4 separate regions of the Homo sapiens genome follow, and regions 1, 2 and 4 are each linked to region 3. The links come from fine-mapping of genetic effects on gene expression. A gene starts in region 3. Each other region holds a variant in brackets. All regions are shown on one strand. Distances are between the middles of the regions. Region 1 overlaps LOC124902205 (a long non-coding RNA gene). Region 2 overlaps LOC124902205 (a long non-coding RNA gene). Region 3 holds the start of S1PR3 (sphingosine-1-phosphate receptor 3). Region 4 has its middle 96 kb from the start of MIR4289.

Evidence for each region. PIP is the estimated chance that this variant, and not a neighbour inherited with it, causes the effect.
Region 1: its variant is the best candidate, but not a certain one, in a credible set for the expression of S1PR3 in whole blood (INTERVAL, PIP 0.51).
Region 2: its variant is the best candidate, but not a certain one, in a credible set for the expression of S1PR3 in whole blood (TOPMed, PIP 0.75).
Region 4: its variant is the best candidate, but not a certain one, in a credible set for the expression of S1PR3 in whole blood (INTERVAL, PIP 0.64).

What each region holds. Positions count from the first base shown.
Region 1 is chr9:88,870,663-88,875,813 of GRCh38, forward strand. All of the region lies in intron 1 of LOC124902205 (a long non-coding RNA gene), which reads left to right. Among named protein-coding and RNA genes, the nearest start is that of S1PR3, 120 kb to the right of the region's middle. The variant A/AAAG (reference allele first, on the strand shown) is at 2,667.
Region 2 is chr9:88,918,039-88,923,189 of GRCh38, forward strand. The region is part of intron 3 of LOC124902205 (a long non-coding RNA gene); the gene reads left to right. Among named protein-coding and RNA genes, the nearest start is that of S1PR3, 71 kb to the right of the region's middle. The variant C/A (reference allele first, on the strand shown) is at 3,121.
Region 3 is chr9:88,989,170-88,994,320 of GRCh38, forward strand. It overlaps S1PR3 (sphingosine-1-phosphate receptor 3), which reads left to right and starts at 2,299. Exons shown (of 2, transcript NM_005226.4): 1 at 2,299-2,526. RefSeq lists a silencer at 1,845-2,139.
Region 4 is chr9:88,839,521-88,844,671 of GRCh38, forward strand. No RefSeq gene overlaps it. Among named protein-coding and RNA genes, the nearest start is that of MIR4289, 96 kb to the left of the region's middle. The variant C/T (reference allele first, on the strand shown) is at 2,678.

The DNA.
Region 1 (5,151 bases), 120 kb before region 3:
TTCTTCCTCTAAACCCAGTTGAATTCCTAAATCAATACAATGCAAAATCCATTGGTTAAAAAGAACATGAATGAGATAATTTTTTCCTACTCATGGGTCGCACCCCGAGGGACTTGCTCTGGCTTCCAACCCTCGTGGGGAGGCAGCAGCCCTGGTTAGTGGGTGGGCTCCGTGGCTCCTCTTGTGCTGTTGGGTCAGCACAGCAGCTGGAAGCCAGAGGGTCACCTGTCCTTTTGTACCAGCGAAGGTTCATTTTCCTCAGTGTTTCCCCAAGGGCAGGAACATATTTTTACTGATGACCAATTCAGTTTTTCCAGAGGTCCATGTGTTTCTGAATTCAGAATTTTAGAATCCAGTAAAGTTCATATTGTCAAATAACTTATTTAAAGAGTTAGGGAAAGACTTGGGGAAAGACTTTCCAATCTCTCACTTCACTTCCAGTGTGAGATGTTATTTATATATGCAAAACTGGGAGGTATATATGTATATACACATCTAATAAGAATAACTTGAGTTGAGCAACCCTAAGATGCTACCATTTGTTTCATCCTTTTTAAATGTGCGTAGCCCCTCTCCAAACACACATAAGCAGTTTGAGGCAGGGACCATATTTTGTACTTTTTGCCTTCAAAGAGCATGATCCATAGCAGGAGCTACTAATGAGTGTTCGATCATCATAATGATGAATTAAATATAGATATTTTGTCATTCGTATTTTATTCATTTATTTTTGGAGATGGAATCTTGCTCTGCTGCCCAGGCTAGAGTGCAGTGGTGTGATCTTGGCTCACTGCAACCTCCGCCTCCCAGGTTCAAGCGATTCTCCTGTTCAGCCGCCCGAGTAGCTGGGGTTACAGGTGCCCACCACTATGCCTGGATAATTTTTGTATTTTTGGTAGAGACAGTGTTTCGCCATGTTGGCCAGGGTGGTCTCAAACTCCTGACCTCAGGTGATCCACCCAAGTTGGCTTCCGAAAGTGCTGGCATTACAGGTGTAAGCCACCTTGCCTGGCCTATTTTGTCATTTTAAAAATGTATTTCTCTACCTTCAGGTGGAGTCACAGATCTCAGTGGTCACCCCCAAGTGGAGAAGCTGTGCGATGCTGATGGCCTCTAGGGGGTGAGGCCACTGGGAACCAAGCCCTCCCCTGCAGCCCAGCGCTGTGTCCGCTGCAGCATGGGATCCTCGGGGCACTGGCTGGGGACATCTGAAGAGGTTATTGCTTCGCTGGCATGGACGGCAAGGGTCACACTGCCCAGCTGTGAGTTGCCCCTCAAGCAGCACCCTGTCGCCATTCCAGAGGAATGTTCCAGAGGAAACAAGGAACTGAGCTTAGCTCATCTCTGGTCTCTCCTCCCAGGAAGGACTTTTGTGAGGCCTGTTTTGTCCCCCACTGCCCGGCCATAGCCAAGTCCCTAAATGGACCTTCTTTGAAGGAAGAACCCAGCTACTCAACGCCCACCCTGTTCCCAGCCCCTGGTTTTGATGAAAATGCAGTCGTGCCCATGAAACTAGGAATCTGTGGGGTTTTTTAAAACTGCAGTGAGAGACAAAGAGCTGCTTCTCTTTGTCAACCAGGCTTCCCCCCTCCAGACATTTGCTTCTGCTTAGAGATATTATGAGCCGGAAAATTCACAAGGCCAAATCAGAGACAGGGGAAATTCCTCTGAGGGTTGGTGAATGGAATATAAATCCTGCTCTGATGTGGAAAACTAAGTTGCTGCTCAGTCATTATTCCTGTCAGCATTCCAGGGCCAGTCCTTGTCATTAAAGCTGCACTTTCATCCTGTCCACACACTCAAGGCCACACAAAAATAAGGGACTGCCCAACACTAAACTTCTTTTATTTTTTGAGGGAAGGGGGCACTCCTCTTTAGGGAAACAATATGTTTAAGTCAAGCAAAGAAGTTAAAAGTATGAAAACCATCTATGTGCATTTTCCTTTTCTCCATCTCCCCCCATCCACTCTTTCAACCTTCAGCGCTAATTTCTTGTTACCAACCTTGCACTAATACAATGCGACATTCTCAGGCCTGGAATTTGGTCTTTCAAAGCTGGTTCTGCTCCAAGTCCTCTGTGACCTTTCATTACTTTCTTCCACACCCCCTTATCTGAGCTGTCCATGTCTAAATGGAACCTACAGTTCCCAGAGAGAAGACAGAGAGAAAGAGAGACAGAAATAAAGAAGAGAGGGAGAAATAAAGGGAGGGAGGGAGTGACATAGAAGAGTCAAGGAGAAAGAGAGAGGGAGAGAGAGAAAAAGAAAGAGACAGAGAGGGAAGGAGAGAGAGAAAGAGTCAAAGAGAGAGGCAGAGAGAAGAAAGAAGGGAAGAAGAGAGGAAGAGAGAGAGGCAGATGGAGAGAGAGGGAGAGGAAGACACTGAGAAAGAGTCAAAAGCAGATAGCGGTGTGGGGAGAGAGAGAGAGAGAGAGAGAGAGAGAGAGAGAGAGAGAGAGAGAGAGAACCGAGAGGACCAGGCTGACTTGAGTGTCTCCTGCTGTGATCCAGCTCTGGAGGCCACACAGCATCGCTTCTACTGCATTCCACCCCACCCCATCTAAGGCAGTCACCAAGATTCAAGAGACAGAGAGTGGGAGAGTGAAACAAAGAGAGAGAGAGGGGGAGAGAGATAGAGAGAGAGAGAGAGAGAGAAAGAGGAAGAAG[A/AAAG]AAGAAGAAGAAGAGGAAGAAGAAGAAGGAAGAAGAAGGAAGAAAGAAGAAAGAAGAAGAAAGGGAGGGAGAGAGGCAGAAAGAGACAGAGACAGAGCAGCGAGGCAGAATGAGAGACAGAGAGAGAGACACAGAGAGACAAAGTGAGAGAGTGAGAGAAAGACAGAGACAGAGAGAAAGAGACAGAAAGCAGAAAAGCAAAGGAGAGAAAGAGTGACAGAGAGAGAGAGTGAGAGAGAGAAAGAGAGAGAGGACATACACTGGCAAATCCCAGTTTCCTGTGGGAGAGGGGAAAGCAGAGCCGGTGTGTCTGGAATTACTCTTCTTCCCCAATCTATAATCCTTTTTCATGTTTTGATTAGAAACACTGTTGAGATGGAGCACCTATGAGAGGTCGTTCTCCTGGCATGGTCACAGCCTCATCTGGGCAGCTCTTGGCTCTTGGGCTCCTGCCCCGGGGCGGATCTTCATGAAGCACTCACGCTGTTGCCAGGAGGGGTCTGTCCAGCTGCATCATGCACCTGAGGACCCTTGTGCTTGCGGGGTGTGCATTCTCACTGCTAGTCCCGAGGGAGCAGAGAGCCCCACCGGCCCTGCTTCATTCTCCTTGTCCTGGCCATGCAAATGCGCTTCTCAGGAGGACCAGGAGCTGCCGAGGAAGGGGAGTCTGATCGGTGCAGTGATCAGGGACTCCAGGCTCACACAGTTTTCCCTGGAGAGCCCGAGAGGCAGGGAGTCTCTTACATTCCAGAAGAGAAAGAGGGACCATTCAGGATGGCAGGTTCAAGGATGAAGAGTTTTCTGTTTCTCAAAGCTTTTGGGGGATGACAGTTATGATTTTCATTCTTTAACATACGTTCAAACGTGGGCAACATGGATAAATATGCATTGCCACTATCACTTCATGAGTGACTTGAGAACTTTGGAATTAGGCAGAAGTTATGGCCCCCAAAACTGCTATTTTCTTTCTAATTAGACAATACAAGTACTTGAGGAATTAATTTGCTGTTTGCTTTCAGCGCTGACACATGAACAGTGAAAGGGGTCAAATTGTGCTGCGGCCATCTCCCCATCTCCTCCCCTCGCCTGACCTTGACCCGCCTGTGACCTTGGCTCTGTTGGCACCGTGCTAAGCCAATTACACTCACTCGGTGGCTCAGCCACATACCACAGTATCAGGCAGTCACAGCAAAGGAGTGGCTTTAGAATATGTGAAGGATCACCCCTGTAAATATGATTATCTTTCCTGGGCAGGAGAAACTGGAAGTTCATGTGTTACTGATGGCCACCTGGCGTCTCTGCACATAAGTGCAGGGCCATTATTGAGGATGGGAGAAGTTGTCACTATGACTAAGAGACTGTGGCTCTCCAAAGAGTGTCTGCCGAAAGGACCAGTCTCCTTGGAGAGTGTAATGTGTCATGGCACTATTCACTTTTGGGGGAAAAGAGCTTTACTTTTTAGAGTAAACTTGTGTTGAAAAGAACCAAAGCAAACACTGAAACCTATTCACAGACTGAAATCTTGTTTGCCTCAGGGAAATACTGTGCAAAATATTCTACAATCTTGAAAGTGCCCTGAAAATGAGTACTCCCTGTTTCAAGTCCTCAAATACCAATGACTCCAGAGAAGGCTGTGTTCTCCAATTTCACCTAAAAAGTAACAGATCTCCTAATGTTTTAAAGTTTGTGGGTTAAGCAGGAGCCTGAAACATTTTTTAAAAATCAACTTTATTGGCTGGGCGCGGTGGCTCATGCCTGTAATCCCAGCACTTTGGGAGGCTGAGGTGGGCTGATCATGAGGTCAGGAGTTCGAGACCAGCCTGGCCAACATAGTGAAACCCCATCTCTACTAAAAATACAAAAATTAGTCGGGTGTGGTGGTGCACGCCTGTAGTCCCAGCTACTCGGGAGGCTGAGGCAGGAGAATCATTTGAACCTGGGAGGCAGAGGTTGCAGTGAGCTGAGATTGTGCCACTGCACCCCAGCCTGGGCGACAGAGCAAGACTCAGTCTCCTAAAAACAAAAAAAAAAAAAAAAAAAAGAAAATCAGCTTTATTGAGGGATGTAGAATTCACATATGACACCCTGCCCTTTTTTTTTCTTTGTACCTCTTTGTAGTCCCTCCCTCCCTCTGCTTCTGGGCCCAAGCAACCCCTGATTTGCTTTTGGTCACTAAAAATCTCTTTCCTAGAGTTTTATATAAATGAAAGCATGTAATATGTGACCTTTTGTGCCTGACTACTTTCACTCAGCATAGTGATTTTGAGATTCATCTGTATTTTTGCATATCAGTAATCATTCCCTTTTATGTTGAGTATTACTCATCATATGGAAGTTCCACTTTCATTTTGTTTATTCGTTTATCTGCTGGTGGACATTTGACTGGTCCCCAGTTTTAGGATATTATGAATAATGCCACCATGAACATTCATGTATACCTCTCAGTGTGGACATTTTTCATGGATAAATACTTAATAACATAACA
Region 2 (5,151 bases), 71 kb before region 3:
CTGTGTTGACTCCAATGGGGTACAAAGATGGAAGTGAAGATATGAGTAGGAGTAGCCTCATGTCCCCAATGGCCACCCCTCTCAGGATCCGAGCCTTTGGGTGATCCCCTCTCTTTGAATCTGGGCTGGGCTTGGGACCTGTTTTCAATGGAAGGTGGCAGAAATAATGTAGTGCTACTTCCAGAATAAACCCTAGGAAGACCTGGCAGCCCAAGCCATGTGCTTTTGGGGGTCCCTGAACCATGCTGTATAAAGCACAGCTCCCTGGTGGAGACACCCTGCAGAGAGACAATGAAGAGAAGATTCATCTAGAGGAAGAAGCCAGGACTGCACAGAGAGAGGGAGACACCCACCCAAAAATCCAGTGGTGCAGTCAAATCTTAGAGCTCCAAAATAATTTCCTTTGACTCCATGTCTCACATCCAGGTCATGTTGATGCAAGAGGTGTGTTCCCATGGTCTTAGGAAGCTCTGCCCTGTGGCTTTGCAGGGTATATATCTCCCTCCTGGCTGCTTTCATGGGATGGTGTTGAGTGTTTGCAGCTTTTCCAGGTGCATGGTGCAAGCTGTTGGTGGAGCTACCATTCTGGGGACTGAAGGATAGTGGCCCTCGTCTCAAAGCTCCACTAGGCAGTGCCCCAGTAGGGACTCTGTGTGGGAGCTGTGACCCCACATTTCCTTTCTGTACTGCCCTAGCAGAGGTTCTCCATGAGGGCCCCACCCCTGCAGCAAACTTCTGCCAGGGCATCCAGGTGTTTCCATTCATCATCTGAAATCTGGGTGGAGGTTCCCAAACCTCAATTCTTGACTTCCATGCACTCACAGGCTCAATGCCATGTGGAAGCTGCCAAGGCTTGGGGCTTGCACCCTCTGAAGCAATGGCCTGAGTTATACCTTGGGCCCTTCTAGCCATGGCTGGAGTGAGTGAGATGCAGGGCACCTAGTCCCTAGGCTGCACAGAGCAAGGGCACCCTGGTCCCAGCCCATTAAACCACTTTTTCCTCCTAGTCCTCTAGGCCTGTGATAGGAGGGGCTGCTGTGAAGCCCTCTGACATGCCCTGGAAACATTTTCCCCATTGTCTTGGGGATTAATATTCAGCCTCTCATTATTTACCCAAATTTCTGCAGCCAGCTTAAATTTGTCCTCAGAAAATGGGATTTCCTTTTCTACACATTGTCAGGCTGCAATTTTTCCAAACTTTTATGCTCTGCTTCCCTTATAAAACTGAGTGCCTTTAACAGCACTCAAGTCACCTCTTGAGTGCTTTGTTGCTTAGAAATTTCTTCTGCCAGATTCCCTAAATCATCTTTCTCAAGTTCAAAGTTCCACAAATCTCTAGGGCAGGGGCAAAATACCTCCAGTCACTTTGCTAAAACATAACAAGAGTCATCTTTACTCCAGTTCCCAACAAGTTCCTTATCTCCATCTAAGACCACCTCAGCCTGGATTTCATTGTCCACATCATTATCAGCATTTTTGTCAAAACCATTCAACAAGTGTCTAGGAAGTTCCAAACTTTCCCACATTTTCCTGTCTTCTTCTGAGCCCTCCAAACTGTTCCAATCTCTGCCTGTTACCCAGTTACAAAGTTGCTTCCACATTTTTGGGTATCTTTTTAGCAGCACCCTGGTCTACTGGTACCAATTTACTGTATTAGTCCGTTTTCATGCTGCTGATAAAGACATACCTGAGACTGGGCAATTTACAAAAGAAAGAGGTTTAATGGACCCACAGTTCCTTGTGGCTGGGGAGGACTCACAATCATGGTGGATGGCAAGGAGGAGCAAGTCATGTCTTTCATGGATGGCAGCAAGCAAAGAGAGAGAGCTTGTGCAGAGATATCTCCCCTTATAAAACCATCAAATCTTGTGAAACTTATTCACTATCACAAGAACAACACAGGAAAAACTTACCCCCATGATTCAGTTACCTCTTACTGGGTCCCTCCCACAACATGTGGGAATTGTGGAAGCTAAAATTCTAGATGAGATTTGGGTGGGGACACAGCAAATCATATCAGTGTTGGTGGTGGCACCAAATCATTAAATCCAAGTGATGTTAATATCCCCATTATATAGAGGAAAAGACTGACACTCAGGAGCTTCATAGATGGCACCCACTGCCAAGTTCTGCAATACTTTATGAATGTGTTTGTACAGAGCAGGCCATCTCCAGAGTACATCTAGTCTTTCAGAAATGGTTGCTTGCATTATTTTTATTTCTAAGCCTTATTTCTTGCATTTTTTTCACCTCATGAACCATGCTCTCCTTGTTCTCATGCTACTAAGAAACCTGTGCAGTCCTGGGCATCCAAAGCTTAACAGATTTCCAGGATTCTGTTTGGATCTCTGGGAAATTCTGGGGCCATCCTGGAATAAAGCTGGTGTGTTTTGAAAAGTCCAGACATTTTCATCAGAGTTGTTCTACCAGTTATAAACCCCATGGCAGGTGTGATCATGTGTACCATTGATCAAGAAACCTGGGCTGGGAAGGGATAAGGGTCTGCCAAAGTCCTATGTGGAGGATGAAGGGCCAGCAAGTGACCTGACCTCACTTAAGGCTGTGACTCATGAATAGACCACCCTGACAGGAAGGCATTGCTGAGAAGAGGGCCACTCCTCTCCTAACTGACAAAGAGAAATCCCATGTTAGAACAGTCCAAAATGCTCCAGTACAGTTAAGAAATTGGTGAGGCTGAACTTGACACCCTTAGCTTCACCTCCTCATGCATTGCTGGAGGCCCCATATCCTGGTATTCCTGTTTCCAAAGACCCAGCCCTGCTTTCCAGCATCTCATTACCTCCACCTGGTGGGGCCTGTCAGTGTACCACAGGTCTACCTTGATTTCAAGTCCATCTCCTAATAATGAAGTAAAATGTTTTTCCCTGCATTGAAGAAATTTCCAGTGTCTTGGATGGGGGAGCTTAAGGAGCAGATGCTCATTCTTGGGGTATGGAGGTGATAACTTGTAGGCAGACTGTTCCTAGGAACACACGTAAGCTTGGCCCTTTCAGCCACTGGAAGGTAAGTCCAAAGATTCAAGAGGGAAAGGTGGCTGGTTGTGTCTGGCAGAAGGAGGGACACAGTGGAATAATTCTGCAAGTGTCACAGGGAGCCAGT[C/A]TCTGAGATGGCAGAGATAGGTTGGCCATCACTTTAGTGGGAAAAGGAGCATGTCTTTTCAAAGCTTCAAATGGGCCACATTTTTAAAAAGCATCAATTAACCTTCTACACACACACACACACACACACACACACACACACACATCTGAAAGGTGTAGAACTTTCATCAGCAGCAAAAGAGGAATGTTATTGGGAAGGTATACATTCCCAGCAAATTCTTAGCAGATGTGCTGGAGCCAACTTCCCAACTGTAGGGTCTACTCCACTGCAAAGTTTATTTGTATGAATCAGAAAATGATGATGCAGAGGAGGGTGATAATGTAAGGATCAAAATTTGATAATAGTTTTTAATAGGAAGAAAATAGCCTCAAGACTCTAGAGATTCTGTGGAATTCAGTTGCTTTATTAGAGCAAAGAGTTCTCCTTTGGGTGGCATAATAGGAGACTGGCTGCTTAGGAACTTAGTCCCTCACATGGTCTAAGGACAGTGCATGTGAAATACTCCAGCATCTTGTTAAAATGCAGAGTCTTATTCAGTGGGTCTGGGGTGGGACCTAAGATTCTGCATATCTAAAAGGCTCCCGGGCGATCCCTGTGCTGAAGGTCTGCAAACTGTGTTTTCAGCACCAAAGTTAACATTGAACCCCCAAAGTGACCACGGACTGATGGCCTCAGATCATCCAGGCCCACCGATGTACTAAGCACAATGGGCATTGTAACAGCATCTGCCACCTGTTTGAGGGGCCAGCTAGGGATTAGTGGGCATGGGGAGGGCCTAGGAGCCTAAACATTTACAAATATCCAGAAAATGATACACACACAAGTGAAAGGAAGAAGGGTGTGGATACAGGTTAGGACTTCAGCCTATGAATTCTGAAAGGACACAATTCAACCCATCAAACCCGAAAGATGGGGCTTGGGGACAGCCTGGAGCTATTGAATGATGCAAGCTATAAAAAATTCTAGAAAGGATCTGCCCTGTGTGTGCCTGGAGGCTCTGCGGGCACCATTTGCACAGTCAAACTCCTTCCCTCTCCGCTGCTGCAGCAAAACTAATGAACCACAAGAGCTGACTGGGTGGAAGCAGTAAACGACCTCCAGGCAAACACAGTGCCTGAGCCTTGATCTTTGAGGTTTAGCTGCAATGTTATAGGCCAGAAAGTTCACAAGCGAGAGCCCTGAAGATGCACAGCACGTGAGACCGCAATAACCACGGCCTTGTTTCCATCTGCAGAGACGTGAGGGTTCGTTGGCCCCACCCGCTTTGATGTTCTTTTCTTCTGTCTCACACCTGTTTGACCATCTCTTAAATAGGAACATTTTAAAACCAAATTAAAAATTCCATTTTCTGATACATTGTCTCATTTGAATCCAATTTACTAAACATATAATATGCTTTTTCCAATCTTATACTAAAATAATAAAGTGGGGCTCTATGAGAATGCATATCTTTCGTCAACTCAAAGGAAGAACTGAAAACTAACATTTTATTTCAAGGAAACATGCTTAAATGGCTCATTTGATTACTTTTATGTACACATGATACCTCAAAGTCAGATGCCTCAAATCTCAGTGTTCAGATAATCTCCTAAATGAAGATGTATAAAAAGAGCTACTTTTTCTATTTTTAGCTGTGCCTAAAGGATTTTCTTGTCTCTCAGATATTCTCATTTGCTTTGGTTATTCCCCTTTTCTTCTTCTTTCTCCTGTGTGGTTTTGCTTTATGTTTTTAACTTTCTCTGATTTTCAGATTTTTTTTTATTTTCTAGGTTTCTTACCTTTGCCTTTTCTGTCTATTCTTATTTTCACTTTCTTCCAACAAAACACCCACTAAAATTCAGAGCAGGATGGGTCTTTTCTCTTTCTCTCTCTCTCTCTTTTTTTTCAGTCTTTTAGTGTGCTCTCCCTCGTTGGATTATAAATGCTTATATACCTGTCTACATGTGGTCCATGCAGTGACAGAATTTTAGGAAATTAGGAAGTGTGGGATCTCTGGTCTGAAGGTGGTTTTAAGACATAGTCGTACACATG
Region 3 (5,151 bases):
GTTCGCCTGCACACTTTCACCTAAGGGTTTGACACCCACTAGTGCACACTGCCTGATTTAATTATTTCATTAAGGGTTACAGAATGGGGATTTCCTCATTCTCGCATTTCTACGTTTATGAGCTGGCATTCTTCTGTTAAACTGCTTTCACTTGTGAAACAGGATGCAGAGGAGGAGACTTATTCAACAGAATTGTAGGGAGGGCTGTTTCTCTCAAAAGGAGTGGTGAGAGAAGATGGTCTCTACCGGGGCATGGAGGGCTCCTTGTCAGAGTCTAGTGTCTGAGCTTTAAGGCCCAGGAAGAGGGCAGCAGATGGGGGTGGGGCAGTGGGTGAGTGAGAGGCCCGTGTGTGGGGAGACCCACTGAGGACAGGGATCTTTAGGCAAACGGAGCCTCACTGAAAGAGGAATTTCAGTGATGCCATGGGTCAGATCCTGGGTCTCTCTTAGGGAAACCTGCCATAAAGCATGAGAGCCACATTACTCCTCAGGGCTTCTGGGCTCCGATTCCGCAGACTAGTTTTGGAGGCATCACCACGCCTCAAGGTTGCTCTGTTATATCAGGGTAACTGACTTTCTCTAGGAACGGAGACTTGGGTGCCCCTTAAAACAACCCTCAGCCAGTATCCTAGCAGTAAATTTTTCATCACGGGAAGCAACTAATTGAACAGAGGTGTGATGAACCTACTGACCACTTTGGTAATATAGACACAGTGGCCACAGTATGCTGTATTGTTATCCTGGTTGTGACCAATGCCAAAGGAGCATGTTTCCTTCTTTTCTTGACTTGATGCTGTAGGAGTCCAACAAAGGGAAGCACATTCAGGCCCACATGAAACTTGGGACAGAAGTGGCTTCTCAGAGCCGTGCACCAGGCACTTTGAACAAGTTGGAAGGCTACAGTGCCGGAAGACTCCACAGTAGCACAGGCGAAGTGGCTTAGGCGAAAACGCTGGGAAGTACCCCAGCTCCCGGGGGCCAGAGCCTCTAGGGCTGGCAGCCTCAGCAGGCAGAGTCACTTGCCTCCTTCAGCTCAATTGCTGAGGGCTTGCGTTTCTCTGCAGGGAACAGGAGTGCCGCCGACTTCCACTCTTGGTGCCCTTCACCGCTCAAACTGCACCCCAAATAAGCGTATGCACCCTGCTCCAAGAGAAGGATGCGCTGGGCTGATCCTCTGGAGGCAAGAGGGCAAAAGACAGAAAGTAACGAGCGGCCTTTGCACAAACTCAACTCTCTGCAGCGGCCCCTGCGGCCCAATCCTGCCGGCCCAGGAATGCACGGTCGGATAACAGGCCTCTCCTTGCTTTTTCGTCTTCTTCCTCCCGCTTCTCTCCTCTCTCCTTTTCCTCCTCCTCCTTTTTCTTTAATTTTCTCCTTTCTCCCCAAGCTTCTACAGTTGTTTCTGTGTTCGCTCAATCATGGCCTTTGGCATTGATTGAAAATTTGGCAGTTCCTTCTCTCGGAATTCTGTTTGAAGCCTTCATATGGATTTATTATTATTATTATTATTTTTGCCACACAAAAGGGGCAAATCCGCGTGAGGAAGGGGGTCGCATGGGGGTCGGCTGAGATCTGCTGGCTGCCGGTCTAGGAGGGGCGCTGCTCTGTGCCGGAGTGGGCTCTGGTGCACCAGCAGAGGCTGGGGGAGAGTGCTGCCCCCGCCTGGAGCCCAAGTCTCTGCGTGCCTGGGGGTAGAGCGCGGAGAGGGACCAGGCAGGCGCCGGAGGGGACCCGCGCGGAAAAGGAAGAAGCCCAAACAAAAACGCTGTCCGGCGCCAGGCGCCCACCTGCAAGCCCAAGCCGGTGCTCGGCCAGTTACAAAAGAAATGGTCAGGATCTGGACAACGATAATGATAGTATTAATCCTCCTATTAAGAATCGGCCCAAACAAACCCTCGCTGTCAGGGCGACAGGCGCCCGCCCAAGCCCAGACCTCGGACCTGGTTCCAAGCCTGTTCCCGCTGGGTCTCTGGGCGCCCGGTTTCTGCACCTGGAGCTCGCCCGATGAGGACAAGGTCTGGAGGCCGGCCTGGGAACAGGGGCCGAAGGGCGAGCCGGACCCTAGGGGATTGGTAGGGTCGGGGAGAAGGGGTCCAGGCTAGGGGCGGGCGGGGCGCACGGAGACCAGGCGGCTTGAGCGGGAGGTGGGGAGCTGGAGGAGTGCCGGGTTCGCGGGCGGGGGACGGGGAGAGGGGGGCGGGGAGAGGGGCGGGAGTCGGGGGCGGCGAGGGGAGGGGCGGAGCGCGGGTCCCGCCCCGGCGGGCCGCTGGAAAAGTTTAGTCTCTGACTCGCTCGGGCAGAGGCCGAGGAAGCCGGTTCCGGGGACGGGCAACAGGGACTCAGGGACCAGAAGGCGGCTGCAGGACGCGACCGAGCAGGACCCCAGGCCCGGGAACGACGTCGCGAGCGCTGAGACTGCCGGGCCTCCCAGCCCATCTGGCATTCGAGCGCAGGACCGGGCGCCCCGGCACCGCCGCGCGCCACCCGCTAGGATGCCGGTGGCCCCAGCGCCCTCAGCCGACGGAGGTGAGAGGCGGGCCCGGGCGGGGCGCGGAACCAGGGTGGGGGGCTGGGGGCCGAAGGACCCACCTTTCCAACAAAATCCCCACCGATCCCGGGCGCGACGGGGACTTGGGCGCGCCACGGCGGCCGGAGCGCTCCACATCAGCACCCCTCCCCCAGAGCCGCTGCAGGAACAGGGAGGAGGCCTTTTCCACCGCACCCGGAGCGTTTACAACGGGCTGGAGCTGAATACCTGGATGAAAGTGGAGAGGCTGTTCGTGGAGAAGTTCCATCAGTCGTTTTCCTTGGACAATTAACAAGTTAGGCTTCCACAGTGCCAGGGCCTGGGGATGCTGGACGTGGGAGAGGGTTGTGGTCGTTAGCCTGGGAAAATCATTCTTTTAAACAATATTCGCCGGAAAATTAGTTTTTTCCTAACATTTCTCAAACAAGGCAATTAGGGCCGTCAGAATCGGTGCTGGAAGACGAAGTCCCCACAGTGCAATAATGAGGTTCCCACGGAAAATCAGTACGTTGTGTTCGTAACTGAGATAACAGCTAGAGAAGGGGCTTTGGGCTTTTTGAGTCTCCCAATAGTCAGTCTCTCTCTCTCTCTCTCTCTCTCTCTTCCTCTGACTTTCTGGCTTTGGACACTCCCAATGGTATATTTCTTTGTGGTGTTTTTATATTTGGATATAAGAGAGGAACTTCTTGTTGGATTTTTAAGGGAACACACTTCGTTTTGACCCTTCCAATAAGGAAAGGGGAGCTACAGGAACAGAGAGCTCTTTAGAAGGTTACTTTTAAATGGAGGCCCCCCCATTCATGGTACCCACTCCCACTTGGACCTCTGAGACCTCCAGAATTAGGCATCATTCTAAAATCTGGACATTAGAAGTCACAGACTTTGTATATAACCACATATTCATAATTTATCTTTTCAATGTTTTTTATTCATAGATGAAAATCTTGCAGGCATAGTTAAGAAAAATATAATTCCTAGAAAGTACAAGGGAAGGATTATGCTCTGCAGATACATGACTAACAAGGATAGCTGGCCATGCCCAGGGCTGGTGTTGGTTGAGGAGGTGGTGATGGTGCGGGGCATGTGTGTGTGTGTGTGTGTGTGCGCTTGAGGAGTTGTGGAAGTGTTCATATCTGTAAAGTATTATTTCATGGATGCAGACCTTAATGCTAGGTTGAATAACTTTGTTGCCATAGAAGAAGAACCGCACGTCAGGCTTTTTTCATTAGCAAACCAGTAAGCACTCACTTTGGGCCTCTGAAATCACTTCCATCACCTAACACCAGAGATACAAACTGAAGCTAGCCCTTAAGAGCCTCCCCCTAAGATTTAGAGAGAATGATTTCTCAACCAGTTTTCATCTTTGAAAGTGCCATTTCTCCCTTTATCATTGTGATTTTTATTCAAATGCATGAGTCTCTGATTTTCTACCATATACAAAGGGTAGAGACTACAGTTTCCTATAGAAGAAACTTCACATAGTGGCCGAAGGATCTTATTTCTCAAAATTCAGGAACTGGTTTCCTCTTTCTGGAAATTATGACATTAACTTGATTTCATGGTATCTCTTTCATCTTCCTCAATGCCTGTGCTGTATGTATATTTTTATTATATACTGTAGGTATATTTTTATTACCAAAAAAAGGAGAATTTGAGCATGCCACAATCTTGAAAAATCTGAGGTTGCCCTGCTGTAGAACCCTTTAACTGCCAGGACTTTGTACTGTTTCCCAAGTGTTACCAGAGCCAGGCCGCCAGCCTTATGCAGTCTGTTTACCTTAGCTGGAACCAGGGTGCTGTGCTGTGGGTTCTATGAAACTTTCTGTTTCTTCATATTTGGCTTTGTAATTCCTTTCTTATCAGTTTTGGAGGCATTTCCTATTATTCCTCTGCCATATGTTTTCTGCCAAATTAATTGCCTTAAGATTTTCCTTAAGCTTTTGGAAATGTATAATGTTTGAGAAAAAAGAAAAAGAATAGACTGAGTGGAATCGTATCTAGTTTCAGTTAATAACATGTTTCAGTTGATGTTACTGTTATAGCTACTGGGCATAAAGTCTCCTTCCCTTTTTTGAATCCTATTTTTGAGGCATTGAAGCTGTGTCTGTAAGAGACAATAGGCCAGTTGGGTTAAATCAGTGACGAGATTGTCCAGTGCAGATTGGTGCCCAGTGAGTGGATCTTCACTGCTCACAGGCCGGACTGGGGTCAGCTCACACAGCGAGGTGACGGTCCGCTCCTCAAGCAGTGGATGGTGCTCTTCGGCCTTGCAGATGCCGCTCCATTTTCCTGGCTTCAAAATTTTCCAGATATTTCAGTGCCCCCAGAATGACATGCTAACATTCTGCTGGCATGGGAGCATGAGGCAGTTTGTCTCTAAAACATGCCAGAGAATCTCTTGTCACTACCTAGGCAAAGAACCAGTGGCAAGGTGGCAGCCTCCCAAAGAGCTCATCCCTAATGTGACATCCTGGAATCAGATGGCACGGACACCGGCCCAGCCCCTTCCCAGCTCTGTGACTAAGGACAAGTGACACCCCCCCTCCCCCAGCCTCGGTCTCCTCCTGTGTACATTCAGAAGGCAGATGCTGCCATGAGGCCATGTGTGCTATGTCCATGGTGCA
Region 4 (5,151 bases), 150 kb before region 3:
CATGTTTCATTCAGCATTGAATCACCCTTAACAAATAATCGACGAGGAAGCCCGCTGTTGCCTGCCTCAGTGGACGGGGCTACCAGGAAGCATACAAAGGCTCATCACAGCAGAAATTCATTCTGTGGAAAATGTGATCAAGATCCATTTCAAATGCCAGAGCCCTGCTTTATTTGACAAATTCAACAATCCTGAGATGATTGGTCATGGATTCAAGGCCTAAGCAAAACTGGCTTCCAGCAAATTCCATAGGCCCTTGTTTTGACCTCTTCTGAAAATGGTAGGTATCACATTTCACCAATCATTTTTCTTTACAGTAATAACCAAAATGAAAGCTTATTTTAATTTCTCTAAATAGTCAAAGGTTTCTCTTGTTTTCCTACATATTTCGGGTGTCTGGGGCTCTCTACCTGACTCAGATCTCTTAGATTATCTTAGTAATCAACTCAGCCTTGAGGAGTTCTCTTCCCAGAAAAAGCTAAGGCTTTGCTGCTGAAAGCCAGCATGTTACTGGAGTACAAATTTGATTCTCCTTCTCTGAGAGGGTGCTGGTTTTCATTTCCAAGCACTGGGACCACACAGCTGCTGCTGGATACCCACAAGTGTTTCACAAAAGCAGTCCTGTGTCTGGGGTACCCTCAGCAAGCACTTATAAAATGCTGCATCTTTCTTTTCCCAGGAAAAAAAGATAGTGTTCTGTGCCTGACTAGGAAGTTCTGGTGGTTTTCTTAGTTAGCACATGAGAGGTTGACAGTTGCCAGTCTCCAGTGAAGCTGTCAACAGGTTATACGCAAATAAGAAATTACTTTAACACATACAAAACTTTTCTTTAGAAGAATGCAGACAACTTATATTCAATTTCATTTCAAAATGCTACCGATTTTCATATTTAGAGAAAATAAGTACGTAATACCTCCTGAAATTAACATATGTTCCACAATTGTGTGTGTGTGTGTTTGCACAATCATGCCAATAGTGTATCTCTGTAAGATATACATTTTTTTCTTTTTTGAGACAGAGTCTCACTCTGTCACCCAGGCTGGAGTGCAGTGGCGCGATCTCAGCTCACTGCAACCTCTGCCTCCTGGGTTCAAGCAATTGTTCTGCCACAGCCTCCTGAGTAGCTGGGATTACAAGTGCCTGCCACCACACCCGGCTAATTTTTGTATTTTTAGTAGAGACGGCATTTCACCATGTTGGCCAGGCTGGTCTCGAATTCCTGACCTCGTGATCCATCTGCCTGGGCCTCCCAAAGTGCTGGTATTACAGGCATGAGCCACCATGCCCGGCCACCAATTTATATTCATTGAAAATGTTACCCGCATTCTCGCCAACACTGGGCAATATTAAACTTTTAATCTGATAGGCGAGAAATAGAATCTCATCATTGTTTACATTTGCAGTAACATTAGTGATGAAGTTGAGCCTCTGTTCATGTGTATACCATCATTGATATTTCTTTTTCTATGAACTACTTGTTCAAGTCCTTTGTAGTTTATGTTCAATAGAATTGTTTATCTTTTTCTTATTGATTTGTATGAGCATTTTATATATTAAGAAATTCTGTCTTTGTTGTATGAAATACAACTAATTTCTACTTCCTAATAAATAGTATGGCATTTGTCTACTTCCTTTGTTACTTTGTGCAATTATTATTATTATTATTATTTTGAGATGGAGTCTTGCTCTGTCACCCAGGCTGAAGTGTAGTGGCATGATCTCAGCTCACTGCAACCTCCGCCTCCCGGGTTCAGATGATTCTCATGTCTCAGCCTCCCGTGTAGCTGGGATTACAGTTGCGCACCACTGCGTCTGGCTAATTTTTGTATTTTTAGTAGAGACGGGGTTTCACCATGTTGGCCAGGCTGGTCTCGAACTCCTGACCTCAAGTGATCCACCCACCTCGGCCTCCCAACGTGCTGGAATTACAGGCATGAGCCACCGTGCCTGGCTGGAAAATTTTTATAAAGTCAAATTTATTAATCAATTTTTTCCTTTGTGATGTCTGGAATTTATAGCATATTTAGAAAGAATTTCCATAATTTGGAAAAATCTATACAAATCTACCTGTTTGGTTTATAGTGCACTTGTGGCTTTTTTTTTTGTAGTTAATATTTTTATTTATCTGAAATGTCTTTTGAAATAAGGTAGGAATAAGCATTTTTGTGATTTTTCAAATGACAAGCTATCTTTTTCTACACAGGTATACTTTCATTTGAAACACCAATTTTTGATCTATGGAGTTTTCACATGCATTTGGCATGCAGACTGTGCTTGCAGACTGTGGTGGGCTTGCAGACTGTGGTGCTGGGCAAAAACAGAACTAGTTCCACTTTCTATCAGTCTATTCCTGTACAACACTATATTGTCCTATGTTATTAGCATCATAATATATTGTATTTAACAGATATAACTAGACTCACATCATTTTTTTCTTTAAAAATTTTCAGGCTAATCCTATACTGGTTAATTTTAGAATAATTTTGCCAGGGGAATTTTAGAATTGCATTCATTACTAATTTCAGAATTATTGTTTTAAGCCTTCTTTTCCAAGCATAATGAACTCATGTTTTCCATTTATTCAAGTTTTCTATCATACCCCTATTGCCATCATCCTCATTATTATTTTTGCCCAACCACTTTGGACTGCCTAGCTGCCATCATAATTTTCTAGGCG[C/T]AGAGTCACATCAGCCAGTTATACTCATTACCTTTTTTCTTCCACTTTAGTCTTATCTCTTCTTCCACTTCATTGCTTTGACTAAGTATTTATGACAATACAAGGGGCATAAGTAAGTGTCTCCATCTTTCATCTGACTTTACAGGAAATACTTTTAGTTTTTATTACTGAGTAGTAGTTGAGAAACAGGGTTTGGAAATTACCTTACTTGGATTCAAATACCAACTCTATTCCAAATGGATATGTGACTTGGAAAAAGTTCTCAACATCTGTTAAATGGGGATATTAATACTACCAATCTCTGTTTTATTTTTTCCATTTTGTTTGTCAAGTATTGTAATCACTGTTATGTTCATTCATAGTAGAAATTTGGATGCTTCCCATCTTCCTTATAAGTTCCAAACCGTATAAATATCATCAGAATCATGTTTTCTTTGAAAGTGGGAAAAAATATGGGCTTGGCAATTTGGGCAATATCACTTTAGGAATCTTCACAATTTATTTTGCTTTTATTGGTCTCTTTAGGTTTTTTAAAAAAATCTCTTATAAAATCAAATTTTGTGATTTATATTTTCCTAGAAAATCACCTATTTAATCAAGTTTTCAAATTTATTAGCACAAATCAATAACTGTTTAAATCAATAACTGTGTCCTGTCATACTTCTTCTTTCTTTGTACCTGTGGCTATGTCCCGGCACACAGTGCTAAGTTTGTGTGCTTATACCTTCCCTTACCTTGTTTATTAATGAGCCTGGGCAGTTGGTGCAACTCTATCCTGGGATCTATAATGAACAAGCACTGAGATTTGTCAGTTCTATTATTAATTGTTTCCTGGTTCTTAAAATCTTGCTTCTTCTGTATTGACTTTTTCCTTTTTTTCATTTTTTGTTATTTCTTATTTTTCTTATTTCTGAAGATTTTTTATTAGTTTATTATTTCTCACTTAGCAATGTAAAGATTTAAGTCTATGAACTTAACTTTGGGAATAACTATTCATATCTCATAGACTTTAAAAAACAGCTTTATCTAAGTATAATAAAGCATTGGCATACAATAAATAAATAAATTGTGTATATTTAAAGTGTTCAGTTTAAGTTTTTGACATATACACTTTTAACATATACACCCATGAAACCATCACCATAGTTAAGATAATGAAGATATTCATTACCCCAAAGGGTTCCCTGTACCCTTTTTAATTCCTCGTATTTGGCCCCTCTTTGACTTACCTCAATATCCCAAGGGAATCACTAATTTTTTTTCCCTCTCACTATAAATTAGTTTGCAAATTCTAGAATATTATATATATTAAGTTATATACTATGTATTTTTTTAATCTGGCTTTTTTTCTCTCATCATAATTATTTTGAAATGCATCAATGTCATATAGTGTATCAATAGTTAAGTTTTTTTATAGTTGAGTAATTTTCCATTGTATGGAAATGCCAACTTTGCTGAAGTATTCATCTGTTCATAGACATTTGGGTTATTTCCAGTTTGGGGCTATTACAAATAAAGTTGCTGTGAACATAGTGAATACATCTTTGTATGGATATATGCTTTCATTTATTTTGGGTAAGAACCTAGAAGTGAAATGTTTGGATCAGAAGTGTATGACTAACTTTTTTTATTTTATTTTATTTTATTATTATTACACTTTTGAAGAAGTTGCCAAACCTGTTTCCAGAGTGGTCTTGCCATTTTACATTCCCACCAGCAGTGTATGAGAGTTACAGTTGCTTCAGGTTCTGGCCAATACTTGACAAAATAAATCTGTCTAATTCAATCATTCTAATAGATGTGTGATGATACCTCATTGCAGTTTTAATTTGCATTTTCCTAATAACAACTTTTCATGTGCTTATTGATTATATATATATATATATATATAATATTCTTTGGTGAAACATCTTAATCTTCTGTCAATTTTTTTATGGTTTGTTTTCTTATTGTTGAGTTTTAAGAGTTTCTAAATATATTCTGGATAAGATTTTTCATCAGATATATGCTTTATGAATATTTTTTCCAGTTTGGGGTTTGATTTTTTTAATTCTCTTAACAATATATTTCAGAAAACAAAAGATTCTTTGATGAAGCTACATTTATAGTTTTTTTAAGGGTTGTGCTTTTTGTACAATATCTAAGAAATCTTTGCCTAACACAAGGTCACCAAAAAACCTCCTGTTTTCTTGTAGGAGTTTGTAGTTGTAGCTCTTACATTTATATTTGTAATCTATTTATAATTGATTATTTTATATGGTGCAAAGTATAGACTGAAATTATTTTTATTTTTGTATATAGATATCCAATTTGTTGAAAAGACAATCTTTTCTTTACTAAATTGTCTTTCACCTTTGTTGAAAATCAGTTGTTAATATGTGTGTGTGAGGATCTGTTTCTTGGTCTCTTTTTCTGGCTCATTGATCTATTTGTTTATGTTGATTTTTGTAGTGCTATAATCCTTAAAGTCAAGT